Regions from separate parts of the Homo sapiens genome. Here region 2 is linked to region 1. The links come from fine-mapping of genetic effects on gene expression. A gene starts in region 1. The other region holds a variant in brackets. All regions are shown on one strand. Distances are between the middles of the regions. Region 1 holds the start of LINC00562 (long intergenic non-protein coding RNA 562). Region 2 overlaps SUCLA2 (succinate-CoA ligase ADP-forming subunit beta).

What was found. PIP is the estimated chance that this variant, and not a neighbour inherited with it, causes the effect. A credible set is the group of variants that fine-mapping cannot tell apart.
Region 2: its variant is the best candidate, but not a certain one, in a credible set for the expression of LINC00562 in whole blood (TOPMed, PIP 0.76).

The regions. Positions count from the first base shown.
Region 1 is chr13:47,925,785-47,937,169 of GRCh38, reverse strand. It overlaps LINC00562 (long intergenic non-protein coding RNA 562), which reads left to right and starts at 4,548. Exons shown (of 1, transcript NR_047492.1): 1 at 4,548-7,017.
Region 2 is chr13:47,970,477-47,981,861 of GRCh38, reverse strand. It overlaps SUCLA2 (succinate-CoA ligase ADP-forming subunit beta), which reads left to right. Exons shown (of 11, transcript NM_003850.3): 5 at 8,470-8,598. Among named protein-coding and RNA genes, the nearest start is that of SUCLA2, 25 kb to the left of the region's middle. The variant C/T (reference allele first, on the strand shown) is at 5,443.

The DNA.
Region 1 (11,385 bases):
CCTGTCTCTACTGAAAAAAAAATACAAAAATTAGCCAGGCATGGTGGTGTGTGCCTGTAATCCCAGCTACTCCAGAGGCTGAGGTAGGAGAATTGCTTGAACCCGGGAGGTGGAAGTTGCACTGAACCGAGATTGTGCCATTGCACTCCATCCTGGTGACAGAGCGAGACTGCATCTCAAAAAAAAAAAAAAAAAAAAGAAACCCAAAAAGCAAAAACCAAAAAACCATCAGCTCCCACAAGACTTATTCACTGTCACGAGAACAGCACAGGAAAGACCCACCTCCGTGATTCAATTACCTCCCACCAGGTTCCTCCCACAACACATGAGAATTGTGGGAACACAGTCAAACCATATCACCAACTAAACACTAACATCTATTAATGTCTTCAATAGGAGTTGATTGACCACCAGTTGAGAGCCTGCAGTTCATCAGTTGAGAGTGACAATTCCAGAGTGACCAGCTGAGCATGTAATATGAAGGAAACTGGAGAAAAGCCTCAACTACTTTATGATTATTCCTATGATTTGTTCTTAAAGCAGAGAAGCATCTTTTTATTTGTTTTTGATATCCTTGTTTGATGAAACCAGCATCGTTTTAGAAAAAATATCTTTGTTTTAGTAAAAATGACACATACTCATTGAAAAAATAAACCCCTTCAAAACTGGAATGATACAAGAAAGTGCAGACAAGTAAAGATCACCTGCAGTGCCAGAACCCAGAAATAACTAATGTTAACAGTTTTGTAAACAATCTTCTGGTCGTCTCTAAATATGAGCATATGTGGATAGATATGAATACACTTTTATATAAATAGGATCATAAACATAATGTTCTATAATCTGCATTTCTTCAAATAAGGATCTTTCCATGGCATCAAATATAGGACTACATAATTTTTAATAGCTGCACATACAAGAGAATGTGTATATCATGGTTTATTTAACCTAGCCTTGCAATTATTGACATTTGGTTTATATGTCTTTAACATTATAAATAATAGGTGAACACTCTGGTGCATATGTCTTTCAGCACATGGGTAATTTCTCCTTAGGGTAAAAACCTGTAAGTGGAATAGCTGTGTAAAAGCATGAACCGCTTTCCAGAAAGTCTCTTTTGGTTACTCTTCCATTCATAATGCACAATAATATTTCCATACTTGATAACATTGTATTGCTAATTCCAATGGGCAAAAACCATGTCCTGTTTAATGTTGATTGAGCTTTCATCTGTTGACTGGGCATTTGTGGAAGTGTATGTGTGTGTGTGTTTGTGTGTGTCAGCGTGTGACTTCCTTTTCATGTTCTTTTTTTTTTTTTTTTTTTTTTTGCGACGGAGTCTCGCTCTGTCGCCCAGGCTGGAGTGCAGTGGTGCGATCTCGGCTCACTGCAAGCTCCGCCTCCTGGGTTCACGCCATTCTCCTGCCTCAGCCTCCTGAGTAGCTGGGACTACAGGCACCCGCCCCGCTAATTTTTTGTATTTTTAGTAGAGACAGGGTTTCACCGTGTTAGCCAGGATGGTCTCGATCACCTGACCTCGTGATCCGCCTGCCTCAGCCTCCCAAAGTGCTGGGATTACAGGCGTGAGCCACCGCGCCCAGCCCTTTTCATGTTCTTTGACTGTTTTTCTATTGACTGTTCATTCTTCCTAGTATTAATAACTTTTTGTATATTTGAGATTAACCATTTTTGCCTATTATGTATTTTATATATATGTCATATGTCATTTTAAATATAATGAAATGTATTAGTCTTTGTGGTTTCTAGTTTTCATGATATGTTTTGAAAGGCTTAATTGTTTTGTTACAAAGTCTGAACTTGAGTTATGAATGCAAATTTCCCCTCTCAAATGCCTAATCTGTTTCCCAAACACCATTTACTTATCCCTTAAGGGATTTACTTTTCCCTATTTGATCTATTTCCCACCAATTTTAAAATGTCATCTTTATCATATACTAACTTCCTGTATGTTCTTGCGTGTATATGAAACTGGCACATACAGGGAGACTCTTTATTTAACTTTTACTTAAAGTAGGAGGTAGGAAAGAGATCTGTTGAAACCATGACAGAGAGTGTTGCAGCGCCTGTCAAAGTTATCCTTGCTTATTTGTAGAAAAATTGAACTTTCCATTTTCCTAACTTTCAACTTGCAATTGAATGACACTGATTCTACTAGGAAAAAAGTAAAAGCTATACTATTTGATGCCAGATGTATGACTGTGGGCTGATGAGGAAGAACTGGAAACAAATGACAGGTGATTCACTGCTTTGTGTCTGGTGTGCCATGACTCTCTTGAAGGGGGGCAGTGTTGATCTGAATCTTTTTGTCTAATGCTTTTTCTTCCTCTGGGAGGGATGCTGAAGAGGGGCAGCTGAAGGAGCAGTCTTAAGCAAATTGGTCATGGCTTTCTTAAATATTGTGATTCGATTGATATGGAACATTTTTTCAGTCTGTGAGAGACTTTTCATTATGGACTAGCTCATAAAAAACCGTAGATTTAATTTGCCCAGGCTGTTGGTTCTCTTGTGTTTGTTATCATACGTCAGCATGAAACCTTTGGCCTTTGTGGAAGCCTTGTGGAGACCACTGAACAGACTTGGAGCCATATCTGACTCGCCTGCCAGCATTCCTGATGTTCAGTGCCTGTTATTGCCCCTCTCCATGGCATTCTCCTCTGTGGTTATGTGAAAGGAAAATAAATCACTAAGCCAAGGGAAAAATCAAACTGGGAGCTATGTCAGGCAAACCTGCCTCCCATTTTATTCCTAAATAACATAGCTACATACCTCCCTCGCAATTTGCCACAGATCCTCGTCCACAAGGAAATTCACTGTGGACAAAGGACAGACAGAACTCAAAGTCATCCCTCTGAGACTCACCTGAGACAAATGCATATCTGATTGCTTCCTTTGCCCTATTGTTTATGTAAAAATGCAGATTCACTGAGTCAGACTAAGTTGTGTATTGAGTGGAAGGCTCATCAGGACTCAAAAGAATGCACCCTAATGTCTTTTATCTACTTCTAACCTGGAAGCCCCCACATTGAGTTGTCCCGCCTTACCTGGCCAAACCAATGTACATCTTACACATGTTGACTAATGTCTCATGTCTCCCTAAAATGTATAAAAGCAAGCTGTACCCCAGCCACCTTGGGCACATGTCGTCAGGGCCCCCTGAGGCTGTGTCACGGGTGCCTCCTTAATCTTGGCCAAAAAGACAAAAGAAAAACTTACTAAATTGACTGAGACCCGTCTCAGATACTTTGGGTTAACAGTTAGGTTCTACCCTTTGATGCCTGTTTACTTGACTGTGTACTGAGACCAGTTGCTTCACTGAACATTAATACCACAACAGGCAACGATTTTGTTTTGTGGTAGGGTACTTGGCCTAGTGCCCATTTTGTAGATGTGTCATTGCTGAGAAGGCAGAACAGTAAGGGGATTTAAAAAATTTATACACTGTTATACATTGTCACTGAAATGCCAAATGATTTAGCTTTTGTTATTGTCACTCAGCCTGCTTACTTGAGCAGGGTTTGGCAAGCCAGTAATTTAGGGGACTTGTGAGTGAAATACCATGTGAATAAAGTCCATTGTTTCCTTAGTTAGAAAAAGGCTAATTGACTTACATGCTGTTTCTGAGGTGAGGAAGTTCCATTAACAAAACGAAACCAAGCCAAAGAATCCAGTGTTTCTCAATTTAACCTAGTCAAATATCTGACATCTCTTTGAGAAATGGATACCCAGTGTCAATAATCCTATGAGGTTAATGGCAGTTAAACAATGGTTTGCTTAAACAGTAACTGGCAAATGCTATAGGGCAAAGCCTATTTGTGGTGTAGGGGGTGCTTGCATCAGTTGATCGGCTATGCTGTATTCACTTGCTTTCTGAAATATCTGTGGCAGGGACAAAAGTTCCTATTTGGTGCTCACTTTGGACTTTTATTTTTGTTTCCTTTGCAGTTGCAAAGATCTTTTCTGTAGCCTCAGCTGATCTAATGCAGTGGTTCTCAGATTTCAGTGTACATAAATCTTTTGGATGCCTGTTAAGCATACAGATTCCTAGGCCCATACCCAGCTATTCTAATTCAGCTGGCCTGGCAACAGGCATGTTTAATAAATTTCTTAGGTGATTCTAATGCATGTGTTCCTTTGAAAAAAAATTGGATTGGGTCAGGATGTAGGAGAAAAGGAATTGATACCGTTTTATGCATGTGTTATGTACTAGATCTGGTTATGGCAGGATGCCTCATTTCAGTGGTTCCCTTCTAAACCCCAAATACCATGTCCACCTGTTCGAGACATAATATCCCTATGTTTGTGAGAACCTGTGCTTAGGGAATGATTCCTTCAGTTTGAAGCTTCTTATTGTCCTTTAAAATGCAGATATGCAGGAGGAGATATCTTTTTATGGCTTAGCAGAATGCTGCTCAAAGCGCCAGTCTCTGAAGCTCTTTGTTCCTGACTTGCAACCAGGTAAGGATCTTTTGCCAGGATTTAAGTCAATTATGTCATGAAGCACACTATTTAGTTCATCTGAAATATATTTTTATCTTGGTAGCAAGGTAGCAAGACTTTTCCAATGCAGGAAGCTTCAGTGCTTTCATTTATATTCTGATGTAAGTTATCTTATTGCAGACCGGTAACAAACACTGTCTTCACAGCCATTTGAGCCTTAGGTATGAATGGAGCAGCTTTGGGTGGAGGGATATCTCCATGACTGGGTGGGAAAAGGTCCAGAAAGACAACATTGGAGTCACCAAATACTAACTGTTCACTAGGCTTGGCTGTTATAAAAGCTGCCAAAATTCATGCTTATGGTTTGACTGGATTTCTTTTCTCTGCTTAGTATGCCCTTCAGTAGAAGTGCCAAAAAAAAAAAAAAAAAGACAAACCCAGTTATATAGCCCAAAGAAGAGGATTAAGTTAGTTATCTGCAGCCTCTGGATTGACTGTGAAGTCTGTTTGAAAATGGGAGTGTTGGCCAGTAAAATGTTTCCCTAAAAAACTCGAAGCTGAGGCCGGGCGCAGTGTCTCACGCCTGTAATCCCAGCACTTTGGGAGGCTGAAGCGGGTGGATCATGAGGTCAGGAGATCGAGACCATCCTGGCTAACACAGTGAAACCCCGTCTCTACTAAAAATACAAAGAATTAGCTGGGCGTGGTGGCAGGCGCCTGTAGTCCCAGCTACTCGGGAGGCTGAGGCAGGAGAATGCCGTGAACCCGGCAGGCGGAGCTTGCAGTGAGCCCAGATAGCGCCACTGCACTCCAGCCTGGGTAACAGAGCAAGACTCCGTCTCAAAAAAAAAGAAAAAACAAAACTTGAAGCTGAGTGTTTCTGGGGACTCTCATGAGCATTTTTGACCATCAATTTAGAAGAAATATTCTGATATTACTATTGCATTACCATTATTTTATCTAGATTAAATTGCTTCATTTCTTAAATGGTTCAGTCTAAATGGGAAGACTTGATAATAAACAAATAATAACTAAAAGGATTAGAAAGATTCTATGATTCTAGAATTCTTTCAAGTACACAGTTATTTTAGAGATCCACTTCCAGTATTTATTCACTTCATTCAACAAATATTAAGTGCACACCTCCTATGTGCCACACAATGTACCAGGGCTACATGGTATACAATGATCAATAGGAGACATGGTCCCTTATGGTGTTTGTAATGTAGTGGGGGAGATATAAGCAATTAAATCCAAGTCAATGTATGAATAAATATATAACAATGAATCGTGAACCTCATACGAAATGAAAAGGCAAATAGTTAATAATTGTCAGACATAAATTTCAGTTCAGTTGAATTCAGCAAATGGTTTTTGAGCATCTATTTTGTGCCAGGCACTGTGCTTAGTATTAAGGATACAGAGATGCATAGGAGAACATTCTTGTCCTCAGATCCACTTGGCACTATACCTGAGTAACACCTACGCCTCTCCTCAACTCCCATTTGATTTTGTTGGTTGATTTGTGTAGGTTTGGCTATTTCACCTGCTGTTCATTCCACACTCTTAGTGTGTAACAGTGAGGTAGGGCTTTCTGGTACCTGTTTGTCTGCAGATGTAGAATCAACTCTTGTGTTTGTGAATTTGACTCAGAGAAAATATTTAAATGATTTGACCTTTGAGATGCCCAGCTGAGCTGCTGAGCGGACACAGACTCAACAGAACTAAGAATTGTTGAACATCTATCATAAAATTATAGGCTTAGATTCAAAGTGATCACAGGATATGCTCATTTCTTCCCTTCCCTTCCCTTCCCTCCCTCCCTTCCTTCCTTCCTTCCCTTTCTTCCTTCCTTCCTTTCTCTCTTTTCTCTTTTTCTCTTTCTCTCTATTTTTCTCTCTTTCCTTCCTTTCTTTCCTTCCTTTTCTTTCTTTTTTTTTTTAGCTTTGCTTTGCTTTCTTCTTTCTCAGGGTCTCCCTATGTTGCCCAGGCTAGACTCAAACCTCTGGGCTCAAGCAATGCCCCTGTCTCAGCCTCTTAAGTAGCTGGGACTACAGGCATGCACCACCATGCCCAGTTTGCTCATTTATTTATTGTATCTGGGAGTCTTCCACATGCTAGGCACTGTTCTAGGCACGGGGTAATAGCAGTGAACAAAACAGACACACACCCCCTCCCCTCATGCAACTTGCACCTCACCCAACGTTTAACATATCCTGACAGTCGGTCATTCCTTTCAACTTAAACATCTTCACTATCAGAGAACTCATCTCCTTATGGGGAGTTGTCTCATTTTTAAACAGTTTGAAATATTGGAAAGCTCTTTATTATACTGATCCCAAATCCTTTTCCCTGTAGCTTTTACCTGCTAGTCTGACTAAGGTTCTATATTTGAACCAGTTTGGAAATAGCTAATCCTTCTTTCTGGGAACCCTTCAAATATTTGAAAAAAATACTTGTGTTTCTTTTAAGGCTCCCCATTTTGTTAGCTGATATAGAGAAATATGTGTAGATACACGAGTACTTGGATATCATCTAATAAAGCAATTGCACCTCGAATTTTGCTTGTTGGGTGTATTTGTCCTTTAGTTCTCAGAATCTATGAAGTGCAGGCATGTTAACCATCTCTCCATCACGGTTGAAATAGAAACTTACCCTTTCATGTGCAGTCATTTGATGCTCACAACAATCCTGTGTGCCAGGTGTTATCATCACCATTTAACAGATAAGGACGCTGAGATGAAAAAGTTAAGAAGTGGCTTACCCTGTGTGTCATAGCCTATGACCTGAACCAGGCCTTCTGCCTTCAAATTTTATGTTTTTTGTTTCTTTCTTTCTTTTTTTTTTTTTTTGTATTTTTTTGTAGAGACAGGATCTTGCTATATTGCCCAGGCTGGTCTAGAACTCCTGAGTTCAAGCCATCCTCCTGTCTCAGCATCCCGAAATGCTGGGATTACAGGTGTAAGCCACAGTGCCCAGCCTCATGTTCTTCATACTCTATTACTACCCACCTCCTCCATACCTTGCTGGTCTTAAAGTGGAAGTGATGTTAGGCTTTAGAATTTCTGACATCAGATAGTTGTTGCTGGAAGAATAGTGAGTTCAATCTACAAAGGATCCTTTTCTGCATGTTAGGAGAACTAGATCGGAGGGCAGTTCCTGGTGGCGCCCACTGTGCCTTACCACTCCTGGGATTCGTTTCACTTATTCCTCTTCCCTGCTTCCCTTCATTTCCCTGCCTTTCTTTTCTATTCTTTGTTTTTCTTTTTGCTTTTCTCTTCTGCTAATACATAGGTTTTACTCTCATGGTCTGAGCTCTGACTTCAGAGCTAAAGCATTCTTTGTCATTGGCACGAGCAGTGGCCAGACTCCAAGTACCTCTGAGTCTGCAGAGGAGGTGCAATAAGCATACCCATTAAGCCACCAAATTGAAAAGTATTTGGAGGAAATTGCTCCAGCAGTAGATTCTATGCTCCATGTTAGGGGGCAGTGAGAAAATCCCACATAAAGTATAATATACAACTTAGTAAACTACAGTAAAGCTGGAGGGAGTTTTGGTTTAGGACATAGATACCAAATGTATAATGGGATGGTGCTGCTATAGCTTGGATATCTGACCCTCTAAACCTCAAGTTGAAATTTGATCTTCAGGGTTGGAGGTGGGGCCTCGTGGGAAGTATTTGGGTCTTGGAGGAATCTCTCATGAATGACTTGGTACTATCCTTGAGGTAATGAATGAGTTCCCACTCTATAAGTTCCTGTGAGAGCCTGAGAGCTTGTTGTTAAAAAATGTCTGGCACCTCCCTTCTCTCTTTTGGCTTCATTCTTGCCATGTGCTTTCTGCATATGCAGCCCCTATTCACCTTCCAGCATGAGTGGAAGCAGTCTGAGGCCCTCACCAAAAGCAGATGCTGGCTCCATGCTTCTTGTATAGCCTGCAAAACCATGAGCCAAATAAACCTCTTTTCTTTATAAATCACCCAGTCTCAGGTATTCCTTTATAGCGACACAAATGGACTAAGATAGTGCTGTTATAATCATATTCCAGAAAAGCTGTTAATGTTGCATGGGAGTAGAAAGAATATCAGACCTTATGAGAAGGAATGAGACATGAACTCCCTAGAGGCAGCATAGTGTAAGGAACATCTTGCCCCTTAATTTTCAAGGATTAAAAAATCTCTTCTGTCTCTGGCTAAAAATAACTCCAGTAGTTCACTGATGCTGTACCTTTAATCAGCAAAGAATACATATCTGGGTAGTAAATAACTTATGCAGAGTAAGATTTGTGCTTACAATTTGCTTTCATTTTACTATAAGCTGTCACCTTAGGTCGGCATTGGCCAGGATACTGCTTTTGCCGTTTTTAGACAAGATAGTGCTATTATTAACTGCCCAGGAATTAGCTGCTTTTTCTCATATGGAAATCTCTATCACCCTGAAAGACAGCATCAGAGATTTATTTTCCTCAACTTAAACCAAATAGTTCTTTATGGGTTAAAGGTTCTGTCCTTATTTTCTATGGTGACACACCTAAGATCCAGCAAAAGGGCGTCTGCAGGAGGGATCGTTTCTTTCTCTGAGAGGTAGAGCTACTGCTTACCTCGTAACTCAATCTATTTCATATTTCAGTTTTATTTATATTCTTCTTTCAACAAAAGGACTTTTGGTGGCTACAGCAAAAGACTTGCAGTTCCATTTGGTTAAACAAAATAGACACTTAGTTGGAAATAGGGAGTGCAAAGATGACTGAGGCATGATTTCTGCCCTTTAAGGAGCTTCGAGGGAAATACAGGAAAAACACGCTGCCCTTTTACTAGACTGTAGCTTTCACAATGGTATATTCAGGGTGCTGAGGGAGAAGAGATGGTGTGGAGAGAGGGAAGGCTTTCAAAGCCAGATCTTGAAGCAGGAGTAGGAATCTACCAGGTGGGGACAGGTAGGCTGGAGGGACTGAGCACACGTGGAGAGGTGAGATACTGTGGCTTGTGAGCAGGTACCATGTGCCCAGGGACACTAGCCTAGAAATGGAACATTAGGATAGAAGCAGGGAGGAGGACTAGGTGATGAAATATGAAGGTAGTGGTGTTCCTCCATTCATTTCTGAGTTTCCAGGCAGCCAGTAGGGCCCAGGGCTCAAAGGATCTTTATGAGTAGTTATTCTTGAATGACAGCATAATAGAGAAAGGACACTTACTTCTACACTTCACACCTGTAAGGTGAATTTAAATTTGTTTTGTAACCACTTGTTGTGGGACTTGGAGTCTTAATCATTTCTTCTGAGCTTCAACCTTGTCTTCCAAAGGTACTTTAGATTTTCTACATCTAATGGTGGCAAATAAATCCACTAGCTGCCAAATACATGGGAAATGATCTGTGAAAACCACAAGTGGCCCAACAAACTGTACGTCTTCAATTTGACAGCACAAAGGAATTATTGGTTAGTATTTCATTGGTTGAATCTTTTGTTTAATCTGGCCTGGAATATTAGTATTAAAAGACTTAAAAATTTATTTGGAAATAATTCCAAACTTACTAGAAGTTGCTAAAATAAAAATAGTACAAGGAATAGTCATGTATCCTTCACCCAAATTTGCCTATTCTTAACATTTCACTCCATTTGCTTAATCTTTTGCTCTCTCTTTCTCTTTCTTTCTTCATGATGTTTTTTGAACCAATTGAGAGTAAGCTACATATATCATGGCTCTTTCTCCCTAAATGCTTTGAGTATTTCTTAAGGATAAGAATATTCTCTTCTATTGTTTTATCCACAGAACAGAAGCTGAAAAAGCATACTGCTTGCATTTCAGGTGAATAATTTATGATTTATTCTTCAGCTTTAAATTAAACTGATTAATTCACTTCAAGGCCTTAAATTATCTTCAATGTCTTCTCTCCTTCATATAATACCTTAATTTTTCTATTGTATTTTGTCTTTTTGATCAAGCTATCAGGATTGCATTAGCTCTATAATGCGGTAATATTGATGAGATATTAGGTTTTAAAAGGCTCTTCCATTATTTTGAGAAAAGAAAAATGAATTTTATAGGGTTCATCCTATGCTACCTCAAAGCTTAAAATTAGATTATCTTTAAAAGCACTCTTATTGGAGATTACCAGTCATGTCTCCAGTCTTAGTCTATAAATATAGGAGAATCTCCTTACCCTTAAGGTCAGTTATGGCAATATACTGCTTTAATTCTAGTGTATTTTTCATTTCAGGGGGCAAATGTACAATGAGTTGGCCCAAATTTTTAGTAAAATTCGTGATGCTTGTATGTTAGCTGTCCAAAAAACTGTGGGTTTATCCAAGTTTACAATATAGAGAACTGAGGTTAGGATTTCATGAAGGAAGCATGTACTATATGGAAGTAATTTTTTAAAAAATTGTATGGTCATCTACATTTACATGAAGAATTCTGTACATGTTAAAAGTGAGGATGGCCAAATGTAAATAATGTAAATTTCATGACTGGGCCAATTAAGAAAGAGATATATATGTATATATATGCACGTTTAATGTGTAACTTTTGTATGCTGAGTGGTACGCACATTTTTTTATTTGTTTTTGAGGAAATTAATAAGGTATAATTAATTGTGTCTTTACTTTTGAAAAACTCTTTTAAGACAGATGGAGGCAACAGGGATGTTTGTGATAATAGATAAGACAGATATCCTTGATTATAGCTAAATTGGTTTGGATTGCAGATATTCATTGTTGAACTTACTCCTGTTTTATCATACTTTGGAAAAGACACCTGAACAATAAATGAATCCTGCATAGGCTACTCTCCTTCAAACAATGAACTGATATTATTTGCTTGTAGGAGATGCATACTAAAGGAGAGAACTCTTGGGCTTTGTCAGGCCACGCATTGAACCTTACCCTGACGCCACTGCCTTGCTTTCTCCTTTGTGTTTCAGTTACTG
Region 2 (11,385 bases), 45 kb before region 1:
AGGCACCCACCACCACACCCTGCTAATTTTTTTATTTTTGTATTTTTTTGAGACGGAGTCTCGTTCTGTTGCCCAGGCTGGAGTGCAGTGGTGCGATCTCGGCTCACAACCTCCGCCTCCTGGGTTCAAGTGATTCTTCTGCCTCAGCCTTCTGAGTAGCTGGGACTACAGGCGTGCACCACCATGCCCGGCTAGTTTTTGTATTTTTAGTAGAGACAGGGTTTCACTATGTTGGCCAGCTGGTCTTGAACTCCTGACTTCAGGTGTTCTGCCTGCTTTGGCCTCCCAAAGTGCTGGGAATACAGGCATGAGCCCACTGCACCTAGCTGAGCCGTACCATTTTATATTCCAACTAACAGCAGACAAAGCTTCCAGTTTTTCTGCATCCTCGCCAATATTCATTTTCTGTTTTTTTGGTAGTGGCCATCCTAAAGGGTGTGAGATTATATTTCACTGTGGTTTTTATTTGCATTTCCCCCGTTATTAGTGATACTGAGTATCTTTTCATATGCTTACAGGCCATTTGCAGATCTGCTTTGGAGAAATGTCTATTTAAGTCCTTTGCCCATCTTTAAATTTTTTTGTTTGGGTTTTTTATTTTTTACTTTTTTGGTTATTGAGTTGTAGAAGATCTTACATATTCCGAATTTCAGCTTTTAACTAGATATATGGATTGCAAATATTTTCTCTCATTTTGTAGATTGCCTTTTTACTTTGTTGATTATTTCCTTTGCTGTGAAGTTTTTAAGTTTGATAGAGTTCCATTTGTCAATTTTTGCTTTTTTTCTGCCTGTGCCTTTGGTATCATGTTTAAGAAATCATTGCTAAATCCAATGTCATAAACTTTTTTCTCCCTGTTTTCTTCTATGAGTTTTATAGTTTCAGGTTTTATGTTTAGGTCTTTAATCTATTTTGAGTAAATTTTTGCATATAGTAGTATTGGTAAGGGTCTAACTTCATTCTTTTGCATGTGGATATCCAATTTTTCTAGCACCATTTGTTGAAGAGACTGTTCTTTTTGCCCTCTTGTGTAGCTTTCCCACCATTGTTGAAGATCATTTAATCATATACCTTAGGGATTATTTCTGGGTTTTCTGTTCTATTCCATTGGTCTATATGTCTGTTTTTTTATGCATTATCATGCTGTTTTGATAACTGTAACCTTGTAATATATTTTAAAAGAAGTGTGAGGCCTCTAGTTTCTTTTTTTTTCTCGAGATTGTTTTGACTGTTCTGGGTCCTTTGAGATTATGTATGCATTTTAGTGTATTTTTCTATTTTTATAAAAAAAAGCCATTGGGATTTTGATAGAGATTACATTGAATCTGTAGATTGCTTAGGGTAGTATGCACAGTTTAACAATATTAAGTCTTCCAATCTGTGATCACAAGATGTCTTTCCATTTGTTTGTGTCTTTTTATTTTTATTTTATTTTTTATTTTTTTTTGAGATGGAGTCTCACTCTGTCACCCAGGCTGGAGTGCAGTGGTATGATCTCAGCTCACTGCAACCTGCATTTCCCGGGTTCACACCATTCTCCTGCCTCAGACTCCCGAGTAGCTGGAACTACAGGCTCCCGCCACCACGCCCAGCTAATTTTTGTATTTTTAGTGGAGATGGAGTTTCACCGTGTTAGCCAGGATGGTCTCGATCTCCTGACCTCATGATCTGCCCGCCTCAGCCTCCCAAAGTGCTGGGATTACAGGCGTGAGCCACCGCGCCCTGCCTGTTTGTGTCTTCTTTAATTCCCTTCAGCAGTGTTTTGTAGTTTTTGGTTCATAAGTCTTATGCCTCCTCGATTAGGCTATCCTTAAGTATTTTATTCTCTTTGATTTTAACTGGAATTATTTCCATAATTTCCTTTTCACATTGTTCACTGTTACTGTATTAAAAGGCAACTTATTTTTGTTTGTTGATTTTGTATTCTGCAACTTTGCTGAACTGATTTATTCTAAGAGTTTTTTTTGTGTGTGTGCAGAATCTTTAGGGATTTCTACATATGACAACATCTCATCTGCAAACACAGAATTTTACCTTTCCTTTTCTCTTTGGATGCTTTTTATTTTTCTTACCTGTTTTCTGTGTCTAGGACATCTAGTGCTGTGTTGAACAGAAGCGGCAAGAGTGGGCATCCTTGCTTTGTTTCTGATGTTAGAGGAAAAGCTTTCAGCTTCTCATTTTTGTGTATGATGTTGGCTGTAAGTTTTCTTTTTTATTTTTATTATTATTATACTCAAGTTCTGGGATACATGTGCAGAATGTGCAGGTTTGTTACATAGGTATACACGTGCCATGGTGGTTTGCTGCACCCATCAACCTGTCATCTACATTAGGTATTTCTCCTGATGCTATCTCTGCCCTAGCCCCCCACCCCCCGACAGGCCCCGGTGTGTGATGTTCCACTCCCTGTGTCCATGTGTTCTCATTGTTCAACTCCCACTTATGATGAGAACATGCGGTGTTTGGTTTTCTGTTTCTGTGTTAGCTTGCTGAGAATGATGGTTTCCAGCTTCATCCATGTCCCTGCAAAGGATATGAACTCATCCTTTTTATGGCTGCATAGTATTCCATGGTGTATATGTGCCACATTTTCTTTATCCCGTCTATCACTGATGGGCATTTGGGTTGATTCCAAGTCTTTGCTATTGTGAATCATGCCACAATAAACATACTGATTTATAATCTTTGGGTATATACTCAGTAATGGGATTGCTGGGTCAAATGGTATTTCTGGTTCTAGATCCTTGAGGAATCACCACACTGTCCTCCACAATGGTGGAACTAATTTACACTCCCACCAAAAGTGTAAAAGTGTTCCTGTTTCTCCACATTCTCTCCAGCATCTGTTGTTTCCTGACTTTTTAATGATCACCATTCTAACTGGCATGAGATGCTATCACATTGTGGTTTTGATTTGCATTTCTCTAATGACCAGTGATGATAAGCTTTTTTTCGTATGTTTTTTGACTGCATAAATGTCTTCTTTTGAAAAGTATCTGTTCATATCCTTCTCCCACTTTTTGATGGGGTTGTTTTTTTCTTGTAAATTTGTTTAAGTTCCTTGTAGATTCTGGATATTAGCCTTTTGTCAGATGTATAGATTGCAAAAATTTTCTCCCATTCTGTAGGTTGCCTGTTCACTCTGCTGATAGTTTCTTTTGCTGTCCAGAAGCTCTTTAGTTTAATTAGATCTCATTTGTCAATTTTGTCTTTTGCTGCCATTGCTTTTGGTGTTTTCGTCATCATGAAGTCCTTGCCTATGCCTATGTCCTGAATGGTATTGCCTAGGTTTTCTTCTAGGGTTTTTATGGTTTTAGGTCTTACATTTAAGTCTTTAATCCATCTTGAGTTAATTTTTGTATAAAGTGTTAGGAAGGGATCCAGTTTCAGTTTTCTGCATATGGCTAGCCAGTTTTCCCAACACCATTTATTAAATAGGGAATCCTTTCTTATTGCTTGTTTTTGTCAGGTTTGTCAAAGATCAGATGGTTGTAGATGTGTGGCGTTATTTCTGAGGCCTCTGTTCTGTTCCACTGGTCTATATATCTGTTTTGGTACCAGTGCCATCCTGTTTTGTTTACTGTAGCCTTGTAGTATAGCTTGAAGTCAGGTAGCGTGATGCCTCCAGCTTTGTTCTGTTTGCTTAGGAGTGTCTTGGCTTTATGGGCTCTTTTTTGGTACCATATGAAATTTACAGTAGTTTTTTCTAATTCTGTGAAGAAAGTCATTGGTAGCTTGATGGGATACCATTGAATCTATAAATTATTTTGGGCAGTATGGCCATTTTCATGATATTGATTCTTCCTATCTATGAGCATGGAATGGAATGTTTTTCCCTTTGTGTTCTTTCTTATTTTCTTGAGCAGTGGTTTATAGTTCTCTTTGAAGAGGTTCTTCACATCTCTTGTAAGTTGTATTTCTAGGTATTTTATCCTCTTTGTAGCAATTGTGAATGGGAGTTCACTCATGATTTGACTCTTGTTTGTCTATTATTTGTGTATAGGAATGCTTATGATTTTTGCACATTGATTTTCAGTTTCTCATTATTGTGTATGATGTTGGCTATGAGTTTTCTTATATGGCCTTTATTATATTGAGGTTGTTTCCTTCAGTCTTTGTTGAGTATTTTTATCGTGAAAGGGTATTCAATTTTGTTAAATGCCTTTTATGTATCAATTGAGATTATTGTGGTTTTTGTCCTTCATTCTGTTAATAGCATGTATTACACTGAATTTTTGTATGTTGAACCATCCTTGTATTCTAGGAGTTAAGTCCCACTTGATCATGATGTAAAGTCCCTTTAATGTGTTGTTGAATTCAGTTTGCTAGTATTTTTTGAGTTTTTTTTTCATCATTATTTTTTCAGAGCTATTAGCTTGTAGTTTTCTTTTAATACCTTCTGATTTTGGTATCATGGTAATGCTGGCTTCATAGAGTGAGTATGGAAATTTTCCGTCCTTTTCAATTTTTTGAAAAGAGCTTGGGAAAGATTGGTTCAGTTCTTTAAATGTTTGATAGAATTTTCCAGTGAAGCCATTTGGTCCCGGGCTTCCTGTTGCTTAGAAGTTTTTGATTACTGATTCAGTATCATTACTAGTTATAGAGCTGTTCATATTTTTTATTTCTTTATGATTTTGAAGATTGTTTCTAGCAAGTTATCAATGTCTTCTAGGTTATTCAATTTGTTGATACATAATTTTTCATAGCAGTCTCAGACTCTTTCTGTGACAGCTGTAATGTCTCCTTTCACTTCTGATTTTTGTTATTTCAGTCTTTTCTATTTTTTTATAGTTAAAGGGTTGTCAATTTTATTCACTTTTTCAATGAGCCAATATGCAGTTTTGTTGATTTTTTTTTTTTCTGTTCCTTGTTTCTTTTATTTCTGCTCTAATCTTTATGATTTTCTTCCTTTTGCCAACTTTGGGTTTAGTTATTCTTTTTCTAGTTTCTTGTGGTATAAATATAGGTTGAGCATCCCAAATCTGAAATTCTGAAATCCAAAATGCTATAAAATCCTAAGCTTTTGGAGCACTGACATGACACTTAAAGGAAATGCTCATTGGAGCATTTTGGAATTCAGATTTTTAGATTTGGGATTCTCCAATGGTAAGTATAATGCAAATATTTCAAAATTCAAAGAAATCCAAAATCTTCTGGTCCTAAGCATTTCAGATGAGGAGTACTCAACCTGTTAAAAAATCAGGAGCTGGGTGTGTTTTCTTAGTTGTAGCAAGCTGTGTCAACTTCCCTCTGGGATGTTACACATTTTCTGGTACTGCCATGAGCCTGTGTACTCTCCTTTGTTCTCGATGCCCCACAGGCATCCAGAGTATGCTGGTTCCCCATCAGCACCCATATCAGTTGAGACAGGAAACAGTCCCTTGGACAGCCCTCCAAGAAGCTGGAATGTTGAACATGTGTTCTACTCTTCTCTTTCTCTCC[C/T]AATGGAGAAGCTTCTTAATCCCAAACTATGTTAGTTTGGAGTGGTGGGGGGAAGGATGCTGATGTGGATAAAATGAAATGGCTTTTCTTACTGATTTCATTGCAGATGTTCTTGGCTTTGAGCTTACCTGGGGTACTGTGACTTCCTAATTGGTTACTGTCATTGTCATAAAAGGTTTTTGGATCATATATTGTTGCTAAAGTCAGTGTTTTTGTCAGGGAGCAAGGTCTTGGGCTTCCTATTTTGTCATCTTGCTGACCTTGGTGTCCAGAGTTTTCATTGGGGTTCTATGGTGTAGGCATTAAACAAAAATTTTTTTTTAATTTTAAATTTTTGTAGAGACAGGTTCTCACTATGTTGCCCAGGCTGGTCTCGAACTCCCAGACTCAAGCAGTCCTCCTGCGTTGGCTTCCCAAAGTGCTAGGATTACAGATGTGAGCCACCACACCCAGCCTGGGTATCACTGATTGAATCATTGTCTGTGCAGTTGACTTAGCCCATTTCTTCTATGCAGAGTGGGTTGATACAATTTGACTGAAAGCCCCAAACCTCTAATCACATTGTCAATCTTTCTGGCATGGCCATTGCCCACCTGAGTCATCTCCTTAGTGTAAACTGTCTAGGGGCCCACCATGCGGCTCCTTGGTCGCATCAACTATCAGATGTGGTTGGAGGGTTTAGAAGTTACTTCCAAGACCCTGGGGACAAAAGTCATCCGAATTCCTTGTTACAAATGTATACAGAAATCGAATACATGGTACAAAATCATTTTTTTCCTAAATAAAAGTTTAACACTCTTAAAAAAGTGATAGATTCTTCTTTTTAATTTTTGTTATTGCCTTATTTTAAGTATTTGAAGGACTGTTTCGTTCTCTAAACAGTAATGAATGCAATCCTATTCCTTTAATTTATACTTTAAATGAGTATGTTACTAAAACACTAAGTGCTAGGATAGAAAAGTGGAATTAGGCTGGGCATGGTGGGTCATGCCTATAATCCCAGCACTTTGGGAGGTGAATCACCTAAGGTCAGGAGTTCGAGACCAGCTTGGCCAAGATGGTAAAACCCTGTCTCTACTAAAAATACAAAAATTAGCTGGGCATGGTGGTGCATGCGTGTAATCCCAACTACTTGGGAGGCTGAGAGAGGAGAATCCCTTGAACCTGGGGGGCGGAGGTTGCAGTGAGCTGAGATCGCATCATTTCACTCCAGCCTGGGTGACAGAACGACACTCCAGATAAAAAAAAAAAAAAGAAAAGAAAGAAAGAAAAGTGGAATTAGTCTTTTGATTAAAAAAAAAAGTTGTCATGCCTGTTTTTTTTTCTGGATGTAAGAGTAGTATGTTCATTGTAAAAAAATTTTATTTGGAAAATAGTTGCATTTAAAATAACAAAAGTCTTTTAATGTTTTATTTCCCACTCTTTTATTGTTTCTGTCAATATGGAGCACTTGAAACGCACTTTATGTTAAAAAATAATACAATTGAGAAAACGACCTAGGGCTTTGTATCATTTTTTTCATACGTAACACTACATGTACACATACACTACATTACCCACTACAGATCAGTAGTTTCCTGTCAGTAAACAATCTTTAAATGCAGTTTTACTATTTCTCTTTTTTTCATGTTAACATTATTTCTAGTTTAATGCATAAATTAGTAGATCTATTAGATAATTTATGATTTTTTCTTGATTGATTTTCAAGGCCTTAAATGTTAATAATTGTTAGTATTGATACCTTACCTTCTCATATTGTTCATGACAATAGCCAGAGCTATTCTTTCAAACTAGTTAGCTCTCTCTTTTATTTATTGTATTTTACTTTTTTTTTGAGACAGGGTCTTTCTCTGTCCCCATGCTGGAGTGCCATGGTGTGATCACAGCTGACTGCAGCCTTGATCTCTCAGTCTCAAGCCATCGTCCCATTTCAGCCTGCTGTGTAGCTGGGACTAAAGGGGCATGCCACCATGCCTGGCTAATTTATTTGTATTTTTTGTAGAAATGGAGTCTTACTATGTTGCCCAGGCTGGTCTTGACTCCTGAACTCAAGTAGTCCTTCTGCCTTGGCGTCCCGAAGTGCTGTGATTACAGGTGTGAGCCACTGTGCCTGGCCAGCTTTCTTTTTTATTGTCTTGCAGTAGGGCTAGAGCTTAGACTTTCCCTTTTCTTAGGCTTTTTCTTTCAAATATCTGTTTTCAGGATTTTCTAGTGTTTATGCTTTAAGCAATACTTTTAATGTCCCCTCAGTTTTTATGAAAAATGCATAGGTTATATTTCACATACATATGTTTACATATTTGGTGTTAAGTTTTTTTTCTTTTTTTTTTTAATTATACTTTAAGTTCTGGGATACATGTGCAGAAAGTGCAGGTTTGTTACATAGTTGTACATGTGCCATGGTGGTTTGCTGCACCCATCAACCTGTCATCTACATTAAGTATTTCTCCTAATGCTATCCCTCCCCTTGCCCCAGCCCCCTGACAGGCCCTGGTATGTGATGTTCCCCTCCCTGTGTCCATGTGTTCTCATTGTTCAGTTCCCACTTACGAGTGAGAACATGTGATGTTTGGTTTTCTGTTCCTGTGTTAGTTTGTTGAGAATGATAGTTTCCAGCTTCATCCATGTCCCTGCAAAGGACATGAACACATTCTTTTTTTATGGCTGCATAGTATTCCATGGTATATGTGCCGCATTTTCTTTATCCAGTGTATCATTGATGGGCATTTGGGTTGGTTCCAAGTTGTTGCTATTGTGGTATAAGTTTTTGTGTATATTTTAAATCTATTTTCCTTGCAGGCAAGCCATTATTTTCTTCTTTTTTTACTTTTTTATCCATTGCTTTAATTGAATATTTATAAGAGGGCACTGTGCTGGAGATGTGAGGATAAATTCTCAAGAAAATTTTAAAATGTGGGTAGAGAGTAATAGATGCTTACATCTGATATTATGCACGGGTAGGTTTTAAAGTTTCATTGATGAGTCTAAAATAAATCTAGAGTTTTGGTTGTTTACTTCCCTTGCCAGGGTCCTGTATTAATAGGAAGTTCACATGGTGGTGTCAACATTGAAGATGTTGCTGCTGAGTCTCCTGAAGCAATAATTAAAGAACCTATTGATATTGAAGAAGGCATCAAAAAGGAACAAGCTCTCCAGGTATGTTGTATTCCTGAAAAATTTCTAGCTTATGATTAGAGAATTATGATACTTAAAGATAACCGTACAACTGAAGTAATTGTCAAAACTTATTTAAACATTTTGAGTGTCAGGAAAGTTAATAACTTGTTTGAAATAGCTCATTTTGGAATTATTTACAATTTTTTCATATCTCTATAAATATTTCAATGTGGATTCTTTTAAAAGAGTCACTGGCCGGGCACGGTGTCTCACGCCTGTAATCCCAGCACTTTGGGAGGCCAAAGTGGGCGGATCATGAGGTCAGGAGTTCGAGACCAGCCTGGCCAATATGGTGAAACCCCCGTCTCTACTAAAAATACAAAAAAAATTAGCCGGGCATGGTGGTGCGTGCCTGTAGTCCCAGCTACTCGGGAGGCTGAGGCAGAAGAATCGCTTGAACCCAGGAGGCGGAGGTTGCAGTGAGCCGAGATTGTGCCACTGCACTCCAGCCTGGGCAACAGAGTGAGACTCATCTCAAAAAAAAAAAAAAAAAAGAGTCACTATACCATTACCCTATCTAGTAAAATTAACAATAATTTCTTTTCTTTTCTTTCTTTCTTTTTTTTTTTTTTTTAAGACGGAGTCTTGCTCCGTCACCCAGGCTGGAGTGTAGTGGCGCCATCTTGGCTCATCACAACCTCCGCCTCCCAGGATCAAGCAATTCTCCTGTTTGAGCCTCCCAAGTAGCTGGGACTACAGGCACCTGCCAACACACCTGGCTAATTTTTTTGTTTTTAGTAGAGATGGAGTTTCATCTTGTTGATCAGGTTGGTCTCGAACTCCTGACCTCAGGTGATCCACCCGCCTCGGCCTCCCAAAGTGCTGGGATTATAGGCGTGAGCCAGCGCGCCCAGCCAACAATAATTTGTTAGTATCATCACTTAGTCATTCAAATTTCTCTAGTTGTTTCAAATCAATTTTTCATTTACAATTTGTTTGAGTCAGCATCCAAATACGGTTCTTCATTGTTATTTTATTTATTTTCTTTGAGATGGAGTCTTGCTCTGTTACCTAGGCTGGAGTGCAGTGTTGCCACCTTGGCTCACTCCAACCTCTGCCTTCTGAGTTCAAGCTATTCTCCTGCCTCAGCCTACCGACTAGCTGGGACTACAGGCGCACGTCACCATGCCCGGCTAATTTTTGTATTTTGTTTTAGTAGAGATGGGGTTTTGCTATGTTGGCCATGCTGGTCTTGAACTCCTGACATCAGGTGATCCACCCTCATCGGCCTCCTGAAGTGCTAAGATTACAGGCGTGAGCCACCGCGTCCGGTCCCTTCATTGTTGTTGACTGATAAGTCTCATAGGTCTTTTATAACTTACAGGTTTCTCTTTTTTGCTGTCATCTTTTTTCTTTCAGTTCAGTTGTTGAAGAAACTGAGGTGATTATTATTCATTGTTTTTCGTAGTCTGGATTTTATATCTCCATGGTTTAAGTGGTTAAACATTTAAAATATTCCTGTGTCCCCTTTATTTTCTGTAAATTGTGTAGAATGGATGGGACACTGTCTTATATATCTCCATAATAGAGCTGTGGTTTATGAATGATTTTAAGAATTCGATGAACGCTGTGGTCCTTCTTTCAATTCTTTCAATTTGTATGTGTTCACAATAAAATTTTGCCTACAGTTTTACTGGTTTTCTCTATTGTCCTTGTGTGCTGCTTCCCCTCCATTCTTCCCCCCACTAAAAAAAAGCCCCCATTGAGTTTAATATTAAGGCCTGTGAGAGTTGCTTGGTAATATTTGTAATGCTGCTATCGAATTAAATTGTTTGCTTTGGATATAAAAATAAGTGACTCATCTTTTCGTTTGTTTGTTTTTGAGATGGAGATTCTTGCTCTGTCGCCCAGGGTGGAGTGTGCAGTGGCGCAATCTTGGCTCACTGCAACCTCCGCCTCCTGGGTTCAAGCAATCCTCCCACCTCAGCCTCCCAAGTAGCTAGGATTACAGGCATGCACCACCATGCCCAGCTAACTTTTCATTGGTATTTTTAGTAGAGACAGGGTTTCACCATATTGGCAGGCTGCTCCAGAACTCCTGACCTCAAGTGATCTGCCTGCCTGGGCCTCCCAAAGTGCTGGGATTACAGGTGTGAGCCGCCGCGCCTGGCCTAATGACTCACCTTAAAAGAAGAATTTGAATATTGGACTTCGAAGTTAAACATTTCTTTTTTTTTATTATTGATTTTTATTTTTAGTTTTTTTTTGAGACGGAGTCTCGCTCTGTCGCCCAGGCTGGAGTGCAGTGGCGCGATCCTGACTCACTGCAAGCTCTGCCTCCCGGGTTCACACCATTCTCCTTAAACATTTCTTAATGAGAAAACTATGTCAGAATAAGTTTGTGGTATTGAAGTACAGCAAGTGCAAGAATTATTTTTTTTTTGAGACGGAGTCTTGCTCTGTTGCCCAGACTGGAGTGCAGTGGCATGATCTTGGCTCACTGAAACCTCTGCCTCCCGGGTTCAAGCGATTCCCCTGCCTCAGCTTCCCAGGTAGCTGGGATTACAGGCGCCCGCCACCATGACCAGCTAATTTTTGTATTTTTAGTAGAGATGGGGTTTCACCATGTTGGCCAGGCTGGTCTCAAACTCCTAACTTCATGATCTGCCCACCTCGGCCTTCCAAAGTGCTGGGATTACAGGCGTGAGTCACCGTGCCCAGCCAAGTGCAAGAATTTTGACCGGCACAAAGTTTTAAGGAGATAAATGTTTCTGATGGAGAATAAAGCAAATTGATTTTGGCAAATGAATGATATAAATGTTTAAA